Regions from separate parts of the Homo sapiens genome. Here region 1 is linked to region 2. The links come from fine-mapping of genetic effects on gene expression. A gene starts in region 2. The other region holds a variant in brackets. All regions are shown on one strand. Distances are from middle to middle.

Region 1 (4,381 bases), 36 kb after region 2:
GCTTAGAGGTGTCACAGGCACCGGGGTGGCTCCTGCATCAGTTGGTAGAACAGCACGTAGCCCTCGCTGGATGCCACCTGGTTTTCACTGACAGGGGAGACACTAGGAAAAAAGGAGATCGGGAAAGGGTTGTGGTCATTCCTGTTTACTCCCTTCTCCCTACAAGACCGAACCTCAGAGCATCCAGGAAATGATCAGGCAAGACCTCCACCTCTCCTTTCACCTGGCACTCTGCTCTCCTGGAGCTTCATAGAAGGGGAGGGTGTCAGGGCTGAGTGGGAATGGGGCAGGATGTAAATAGGAGGCTATTCTCACCGAGAGTCATTGTAGACATGCCAACCAGTCTGGCACCGGCACAGGGCTGTGTAGTGGCCATAGTGGACGCTGCCTGAGTGGTTGCAAAGGGCATACAGCTGGTATACAGGACTTCCTGCGGGGTTGGAGATGATCAAGTTCTATAATCAGAGCTGTGCCCCCACTCCTTTGGCTCCTTAGGACTTTCCCCACCAGACTCACCGGCTTTGTCACTGGCAAAGTCCCCTAGGCTCAGTCGCTGCAGTGGAAAGTCTACACCTACTGAACTTTTTTTGATGGAGCCTCGGGAGGCAGAAAATCGATTCAGATCTAAGCCCTGGTTAAGGAGCATTTGGGAGGCAGTGGGCCTCTGAGGGGAACTTCTTCTATCCTGAAAGCTGTCCTCTCCCCACTCCCGACACACTGGGAGCATCTTGTGGAAAAGTGGGTGGCAGACTTTTCCTAAGGAAAATTCAATTCTCTGGAAACATGGAGGAAAGAGAATGTATGGGAGGTATCCTAAGAGAAGTAAGAATCTGAAGATTAGGATATGGAGCACGAGGATTCGAGGGAATCTTTGTACTGTCAACTTTTTGGTACTTCGAGTTTTCTGCCGACATCGGTCACACACCTGAATAAATGGCAAACAGTGTTAGGTTAATATGCTCCTAACCTCAATTGGCTTTTCTGACACCCCGATCCACATACAAATTTAGTATGCTCTTCATTACAGCTGGATCCTCTTGGCTTCTCCCCTTTGCTCTAGGAGTACTAGAACAGATCTGAGACTCCAACACAAACCCAGATACATAAATATTATTCCCCATATGAAGACATCATGCAATCCCTTTTATCCACATGGAGTCCCCCCAGGTCTCCCACCCTTACTGTATCCCTTGTGAACCTCCACATACTGGGGCATTCTCCGACTCTAGCTCTTCTTCCTTAGTGAAAAGGTTGAAACAATCCCGCAGAGACACCTTGCCCCCAGCAAATCCTTTCTGGGGGAAAAGGGGAAGAAAGGTCAACATGTTCTGAATTTCCTTTTCCAACTCTTCTCAATCAATCCAGGCTTCAGTTCTGCTCCAGAAACCCACAGGGTTCCCGCCCACACTCTGGGGGTGGGTAGGCTTGGGTCACAGAGCCCCTGTCCTGTCCACCCCGGAATCCTCTGGAATCCCACCTTGGGGATGGGCAGGGACAGGTCACAAAAAACCTCGAAGGTCGTGGAGCGATACCCACAGGCCTGGCACTTGAGACAACTTTTCAACTGGCCCACAAACAGGTCTAGACAGAAGCACAGGGACAGGAGAAAAGGTCATTGTTGGATGTTATGAGATGATTTCTTGGATTTCCATCTCTTCCTGCCCCTTTGCTTGACCCTTCCTTTCCCACTACCAACACTCCTAATCAACTCTTCACACAGCTTCACATTTGCATCATCCAGTCTTGTTCCCATACCCCTTGATAGTATCGATTTTTCCCCCCAAGCCTGTACCCCCCTCACACACTAATTTTCCCTCATTGCTTTGCCCCATTCCATACCCACAATCTTGCTGTCCTCTCGCTCCAGGTAACGTTTCCACATTAGGTTGGCTCGGTCATCATCACTACCACAGATCAAAGGAAGTGGGGAGCACCCATGAGACAGCAGGAACACTGGGCACCCCCAACACCCACTGAAACAACCTACAGAGCCCTACTCCCCATCCACACCCCTGCTCCTTCCCTAAATTTCAAGGAAAAGTCAAAAGAATAATGCCTCAATGAACTTTCTAGGGAAATCCGAGGTGAGAGGAAAAGAAAGGAATGTACATAAGGGAAGAATATGCTGTCTTCCTCTACCTGTAAATGAATTATCCCCTTCTTCAATTTGGTGACATCCCTAGCATGATCTTCTGCCTCCATCTGCTCCCTTAGACTCCCCCTCTTCCTTCCTTCCTTCTACTTCTATGTTGCTTCTCATACTATTTTCTATACTAAAGGGTTTCCCTGGACCCTACATCTTCAATCTTTACTAGTTTAGTTCTATGAAGTGTGAATGATGCTGATAAACTACGGGGAAAGGAGGTAGAGGGAACGACCCTTACCTTAACTCAGGTTCTTCTAGCAGAGCCCCTCCTCGGCGGGGTGGAGAGGGAACTGGACCATTGGCAAGTATCGGTGGAGCCCGGCGG[C/T]CTCGGCGGTTGATTTCAAGGTGTAGCCGCTCCATGAGGAGCTTCAGGAACTCTTGGGCATCCTGCTGGCTACAGCCAGACAAAGAGTATGGGCAACTGACTCCTCTCCTAGTCCACAGACACTATTCCCTGCCCAGATATTGGTCCCCACTTCCTGGATGAAGAACATCTCAAGGCTCAGAACAATGCTGCCAGGGCCCTTGCTTGGCCCTACCCCCAGACATGGCCAGAGAGAAATCCCATAGCCTCCAGCTCTCCCACCTGTATCCAGAGAAGGAGGGAACATATTTCTGGAAGACAGCTCGGAATCGAGTAGGATTCACAGCTTCGCAGGAGTCAGGGTGCCAGAGGGCACCAATCACATCTGCAAAGGCTGTTGGGATGGGAGTGGGGAAGGCAAACAAAGGTTAATGTCTGGAAGAGGCAAGCAAAAGGTGGCTCAGAGGGTAGAAAATAACCTTTAGGAAAGTAGGCACTGGGAAAAGTAGATACAACTGCCAGATTTAAGGGTTGGGGGCCACCACCAGTGGCAGATGGACCTGCAAGTGGTTGGGGAAAAAGGGACTTGAACAGAGGGAGCAGGAGTTGTTGCCCCACCTTCAGTGAGCTCTTGGGCTCGGCCTCCTCCAGGCACCTCTTGCCGGAAGTCCCTTCTCAGACAGAAGTCCCGAAGAGGTCGAGTGCTGCTCAGACACTGCAGCACAGCATTCAGGAAGCACTGGGGAGCAGTAGGGACACTGCTGTTATCTCTCCAGACCACTGCCCAGGAAGCCTTAGAAGAGCTTCAGAGCTCTCCTTCCACATGCCTTCCCCAAGCTCGTGGGTTTTCCCCACCCCCAGCACCATTTCACATTCCTTTTAGAGAGGAAAGATAGGAGAATAGCTCTCACCGTGTTTCCCAGGTTTCGAAGGCCAACATGACCAGAGCCCAGAAGGAGTGTGTGATGAGCCTGGAAGGTCAGAGTACAATCGGCAAGTTCCTATATATCCTACCTGGCACTTTAACCTTTCAACAGCATGCTGCCCACTGCCTCCCCCATCCCATGCATGTTTCATCCCCAAACTCTACCCTATTCCCCTCACTAGGTATTCTAGTCTCCCTACCTCACTGGTCATGAGCAGTAAGCCCATCACAGCTGAATGTACCACGGACTCAGCCATGGCTGTCCCACCTGTTGCCCACTTACTCCTCTGCTCAGCTAGCTGACGTTGCAGCTCCTGGGGCAACTCCCCCAGCACCGGCATGGTTGCCCAGCTGCTCACCACTCCCACCTTTCTGCCCCCAAAACCCCCTCCTGCCCCCGTGGCCCCTTCTTGCCCTTCTCCTGCTGGCTCCAATTGCAATCAGCCTAGCTTACTTAGCTCAGAAAATGTGCAACCACGTTTGCTAAGATGTTCTGTGCCTGCCTCTCTTTAGCTCCAGAGATTAATTAGGCCTAGGCAGAGTCCCAGTAGAGAAGGTGCAAGCAAGGGAAAGGAAGGGCCTGGGGACCCAAAGAAGAATTCTAAATAGTTGGGGTAATCCCCTGGGGACCGAAATGGCACACCATGCTGAAGAGTCACCAACAACCCAAAAAAGGGTCTAGGAGGCTCAAGGGTATTTAAGCAAGGGAGAGGCATGTCCAAACTGCTGTAATGAAGGGCTGAGAAAGGAACTTCAGGGAAATGGGGGACAGAAAAGGCAGAGGATGGCAGGAAAGCACAGAGGAACATGGGCATGAAGGCCATGTGTGTGGCAAGTCCTCACCATCTTGTCATCAGAGTAGAAAGGCTCAGAGGACCGGGCGGATATCATGTGGAAGGAGCCATGGGAAGCAGGGGGCTCTGTCCGTATGCTGAACAGGGTAGGGGGTCCAGGAAAGCCCCCTAGGCGGCGGAGAGAAGTGCTACGTCTCAAAGTGGGTGGCTCA
Region 2 (4,381 bases):
CCTCTGTGGGTGACCCTGACATCCTCCAGGCTTCCCGAACCTACAGAATCACAGACCCAGGAAGCGCCCTTAGAGATGCCTCACACCCCACTTCCGTCTTGCGTCAGCCTCTTTTCCCTAACGTCTTTCTGACCCTGCTATAGCCCTCCTGGGTAATGGCCAACAGCACGGAAATGTAGTAGCACCAGGAGTCTGATCACAATTCTGTATGGACAAAGATTCTTCCAGCCTTAGAGGCTAGTTCCTGTTTTCTCCCTCTGCCTCTAAGCCCAACTCCAGCTGGGCCACCCACCCGTAGAGTTTGTACAACTCTCCAACTCTGAGCCTGGAAAGAGGCCTTCCCCAGATATCCCCTAGACAGGATCCCAGGGACACAGCCCACCAGCAGCGCAGCAGGGTGAGGCAGACAGACCAGGAAGCAGAGATGGTGGAATTCTTCACTGCAGAGAAAGAGGGGAAAGCCAGACTTCTGGCCTGGGAATTGACCTAATGGGAACTGTACCAAAGGGTGGGGCCAGATCCTTAGCTGTGGGAACTGACCAGGACCTGGGCTAGACAAGGCAGCTGCCACAGAGCCAGGGCAGAGGTTTGGTCCCTCTGTTGTCCTCATTCCTTGCTCTTTCCCTGGGCCTTCTTTCTATTGTTGAAACACAGCAAATGTGGCCATGGTGGTGGGGGATGGGAAGGACTGCATTTATTTGCCTTGATCCAGCCTGGGAGAAGTCAGGATAGACTTTGGGCTGCTTGGCCCTGGAGGCAGCTTGAGCTGGGACTGGGGTGGGGGGCTCCTGAGGGGCTGCCTAGGACACTGCAGCTTTTGTGCCTTCTCCCTGCTGCCAACACCCCCACACACACTGCTGCAGCCACTCTAAAGCCCTTTGTCTTTCATTGCTTAGTCACCCCCTTTGTCCTCATCTCAAATAGGGGAGTGGAAAGGGGCAGTAGAGTTCTCTGGTGATAGCTCCTCTTGCCCCTGCCCCTTCTGGTCTCCCACCCTTTGTCCGACTCCTCTAGTCCCAGCCCCGTTGGCTTAGAACCAGGGTCAGGCAAGTGGTGGGTCAAGAGGTGGGTCTGGCAGTCACAAGGGGGTGGGTGATCCAGGAAGTGATAGGCACCAGGGCAGGTATTACCGACCTGAGCAGGAAGGGAGGGGGAAAGGAAGTATTCTGACGGATATGATATGCGGGGGACAGGAGGTGACAAAGCAGAGTGAATAGGGGAATAGAGGCAAGAGGAGGTGGTCCACTTCTGGGAAAGGAAAGAGACTGCTGACTGCACTCTCCTTCCTGGGGATTTCCTGGGGAAACAAGCAGCCAGAGGATGGGGTGAGCAGAAATTGCCCCTACTTCTGAACCCTTCCTTGCCTTGAGAGTTCATACCCAAGACCTCTTTTCCGAGTTCCCTCCTATCCAAAGCCAAAGGAATAATTTGCTTCCTTTCCCTAACACCACCTCTTCCTCCCCAGCCACTTTCCCCACCCCAGGCAATGGATTTCTCCCAGTACCCTAATTTCCCTATATGCACAATGCTGTCTCCACCCTCTCCCTGCCCCAGGGAGAATTAAAAAGAAAAGATGACTAGATATTCCAGGAACCACTGGGTTCTCAGAGCAAGGTGGGGTGGATGGTGGGAGCCAGGTGGGGATTCTCCCAGATTGATACTGGGTGAATCTGGGTTCCTGAGAGCAAGTCTTGCCTATGCTGGGGGCTGGCTGACTTGAGGCTGGGGGAGGGTTTAGGGCAGTTGGGAGTGGGTAGGAGCAGGGCCAAAAGCCTGGGGGAAGCTACTGGGAGCTGGGCCAGGGAAATGGGGAGTCAGGAAGTGGGGAGGGGGAACCCTGGGGGGAAATGGAGGCGGAATGGCTGTTCTGGGCTTTGGAGGGGGTGGGTAGTGGTAACTCAGGAAGGGGGATCCTGAGGGAGAGAAGGGACGTTAGAAAAGAGGAGGTGCCACCCTGGATCCGCCTTCTATAAAAGGAAAAGTCGTTAACCCCTCCTGCCTTGTCATCTGCCGCCTCTGTTATGTTCATTCCAAGCAGGATCATCCTACCTTTGGGCAGTCAACTCCCTGATCACTGTCTCCTTGCCTCCCCCAATGTTCTGCCTTTTTTACTCTTCCCAGCTGCTCAGTTCTATCCTGAGCCATGTCAAGCTACCTCTTTTATTTGTTCTTCCCTCTTGATGCCTCCTTACCTGTTCCCTACCCTCTTTTCTCAGGCAGCTCACTCAGTCCCCTCAGCCCTGGAAACCAGCCACTAGGGCCAAAGGGCAGCATGAGGGAGCCTTGAGAAAAGAGAAGCCATGGTAGGTTAGACTATAAGAGCAGGAATTCTCCCAGGACCGTGATCCTATCTGTGCATGCCGGCCAGGCCCTTTCCCTCACTCTCTGCCTCTCCTGGGGCTCTGTCCCACCAAAAAGGGAAAGAGACAGCTGAGGGCTGATTGTGGGGTTTGGGAAAAGGCTATGTCATCAGCTGGCCCAGTGCCTATTATCCATTCGGCTGCTAGAGATTCCCCTCCCCTGGGCAAGTCCCATTTTTTTGGGAAGCGATGATACACCCATCTGAGTCCCACCGACAGAGCTCAGCTGAGTGGCTTAGAGATCAGCCAATCAATCGCAGAGGCTCACCATGCTTAAAAGAGCTGGCGCGGAGAGAGGCTGGGGAGAACCCACAGGGAGACCCACAGACACATATGCACGAGAGAGACAGAGGAGGAAAGAGACAGAGACAAAGGCACAGCGGAAGAAGGCAGAGACAGGGCAGGCACAGAAGCGGCCCAGACAGAGTCCTACAGAGGGAGAGGCCAGAGAAGCTGCAGAAGACACAGGCAGGGAGAGACAAAGATCCAGGAAAGGAGGGCTCAGGAGGAGAGTTTGGAGAAGCCAGACCCCTGGGCACCTCTCCCAAGCCCAAGGACTAAGTTTTCTCCATTTCCTTTAACGGTCCTCAGCCCTTCTGAAAACTTTGCCTCTGACCTTGGCAGGAGTCCAAGCCCCCAGGCTACAGAGAGGAGCTTTCCAAAGCTAGGGTGTGGAGGACTTGGTGCCCTAGACGGCCTCAGTCCCTCCCAGCTGCAGTACCAGTGCCATGTCCCAGACAGGCTCGCATCCCGGGAGGGGCTTGGCAGGGCGCTGGCTGTGGGGAGCCCAACCCTGCCTCCTGCTCCCCATTGTGCCGCTCTCCTGGCTGGTGTGGCTGCTTCTGCTACTGCTGGCCTCTCTCCTGCCCTCAGCCCGGCTGGCCAGCCCCCTCCCCCGGGAGGAGGAGATCGTGTTTCCAGAGAAGCTCAACGGCAGCGTCCTGCCTGGCTCGGGCGCCCCTGCCAGGCTGTTGTGCCGCTTGCAGGCCTTTGGGGAGACGCTGCTACTAGAGCTGGAGCAGGACTCCGGTGTGCAGGTCGAGGGGCTGACAGTGCAGTACCTGGGCCAGGCGCCTGAGCTGCTGGGTGGAGCAGAGCCTGGCACCTACCTGACTGGCACCATCAATGGAGATCCGGAGTCGGTGGCATCTCTGCACTGGGATGGGGGAGCCCTGTTAGGCGTGTTACAATATCGGGGGGCTGAACTCCACCTCCAGCCCCTGGAGGGAGGCACCCCTAACTCTGCTGGGGGACCTGGGGCTCACATCCTACGCCGGAAGAGTCCTGCCAGCGGTCAAGGTCCCATGTGCAACGTCAAGGCTCCTCTTGGAAGCCCCAGCCCCAGACCCCGAAGAGCCAAGGTAGGCATCTCTGGAGTCTGTGTCCTGCGGTGTCCTCCCGCCATGTCTGTCCTACTGACCCCTATTCACCCTCTCTCCACCCACTTACACTTCTGGCCGTTCTGCTTCCCTCCCTTCTGCCTGCCTTTCCTTTCTCCATGAGCCTCCTTTCTTGGTAAGGCTCAGGCCTCTCCCCTTCACCCTTCTCCTAGCCAGACCCACCGAGGGTTCTCAGAGGTGGGTCACAGACTCTGGGCTGGGAATAACTGCTCCCTCTCCCCACCCCACCCCTTCCTGGCCATGGCATCTCCTACTGACACAGTCCCCAGCAGTAAAGGTCTCCTAACAGCCCCTTGGCCTTGGCTCTTTTCTCTGCTCCAAATTTGATTTTCATCCCCCACTCCCAGCTATAGGAGTCAGGTTTGAGGCCCTAGGGCTTGGTGTCTGGCTTCTGATGCTGCCTTTAAAATCACTGTGGCAAACTGCAAACTAGGGCAGGAGTGGCAAGAGAGGGAGGGTATCCCATACCTCCTTCTGGTCAATCCCCTTCACACACTGTGGCCGGACTGCGAGGCTGCCTGAGGCTCCATCCTTTCCTCCCTCCCACTCCTGGTCTCCCCCTTCTTCCCTTCCCTCCTCCCTCCTCCCTCTCTAGCTTTAATCCAGACCAGACGCTCCCTC

The links. PIP is the estimated chance that this variant, and not a neighbour inherited with it, causes the effect.
Region 1: its variant is the best candidate, but not a certain one, in a credible set for the expression of ADAMTS4 in whole blood (TOPMed, PIP 0.56).

Annotation. Positions count from the first base shown.
Region 1 is chr1:161,161,078-161,165,458 of GRCh38, reverse strand. It overlaps USP21 (ubiquitin specific peptidase 21), which reads right to left. Exons shown (of 14, transcript NM_001014443.3): 3 at 4,219-4,381; 4 at 3,362-3,421; 5 at 3,069-3,189; 6 at 2,733-2,844; 7 at 2,385-2,540; 8 at 1,840-1,904; 9 at 1,478-1,581; 10 at 1,209-1,295; 11 at 847-925; 12 at 517-624; 13 at 316-430; 14 at 1-102. The coding sequence ends at 12. Among named protein-coding and RNA genes, the nearest start is that of PPOX, 3.2 kb to the left of the region's middle. The variant C/T (reference allele first, on the strand shown) is at 2,472.
Region 2 is chr1:161,197,335-161,201,715 of GRCh38, reverse strand. It overlaps ADAMTS4 (ADAM metallopeptidase with thrombospondin type 1 motif 4), which reads left to right and starts at 2,662. Exons shown (of 9, transcript NM_005099.6): 1 at 2,662-3,721. The coding sequence starts at 3,089. It also overlaps a transcript of NDUFS2 not described here. RefSeq lists enhancers at 676-1,397, 3,923-4,381.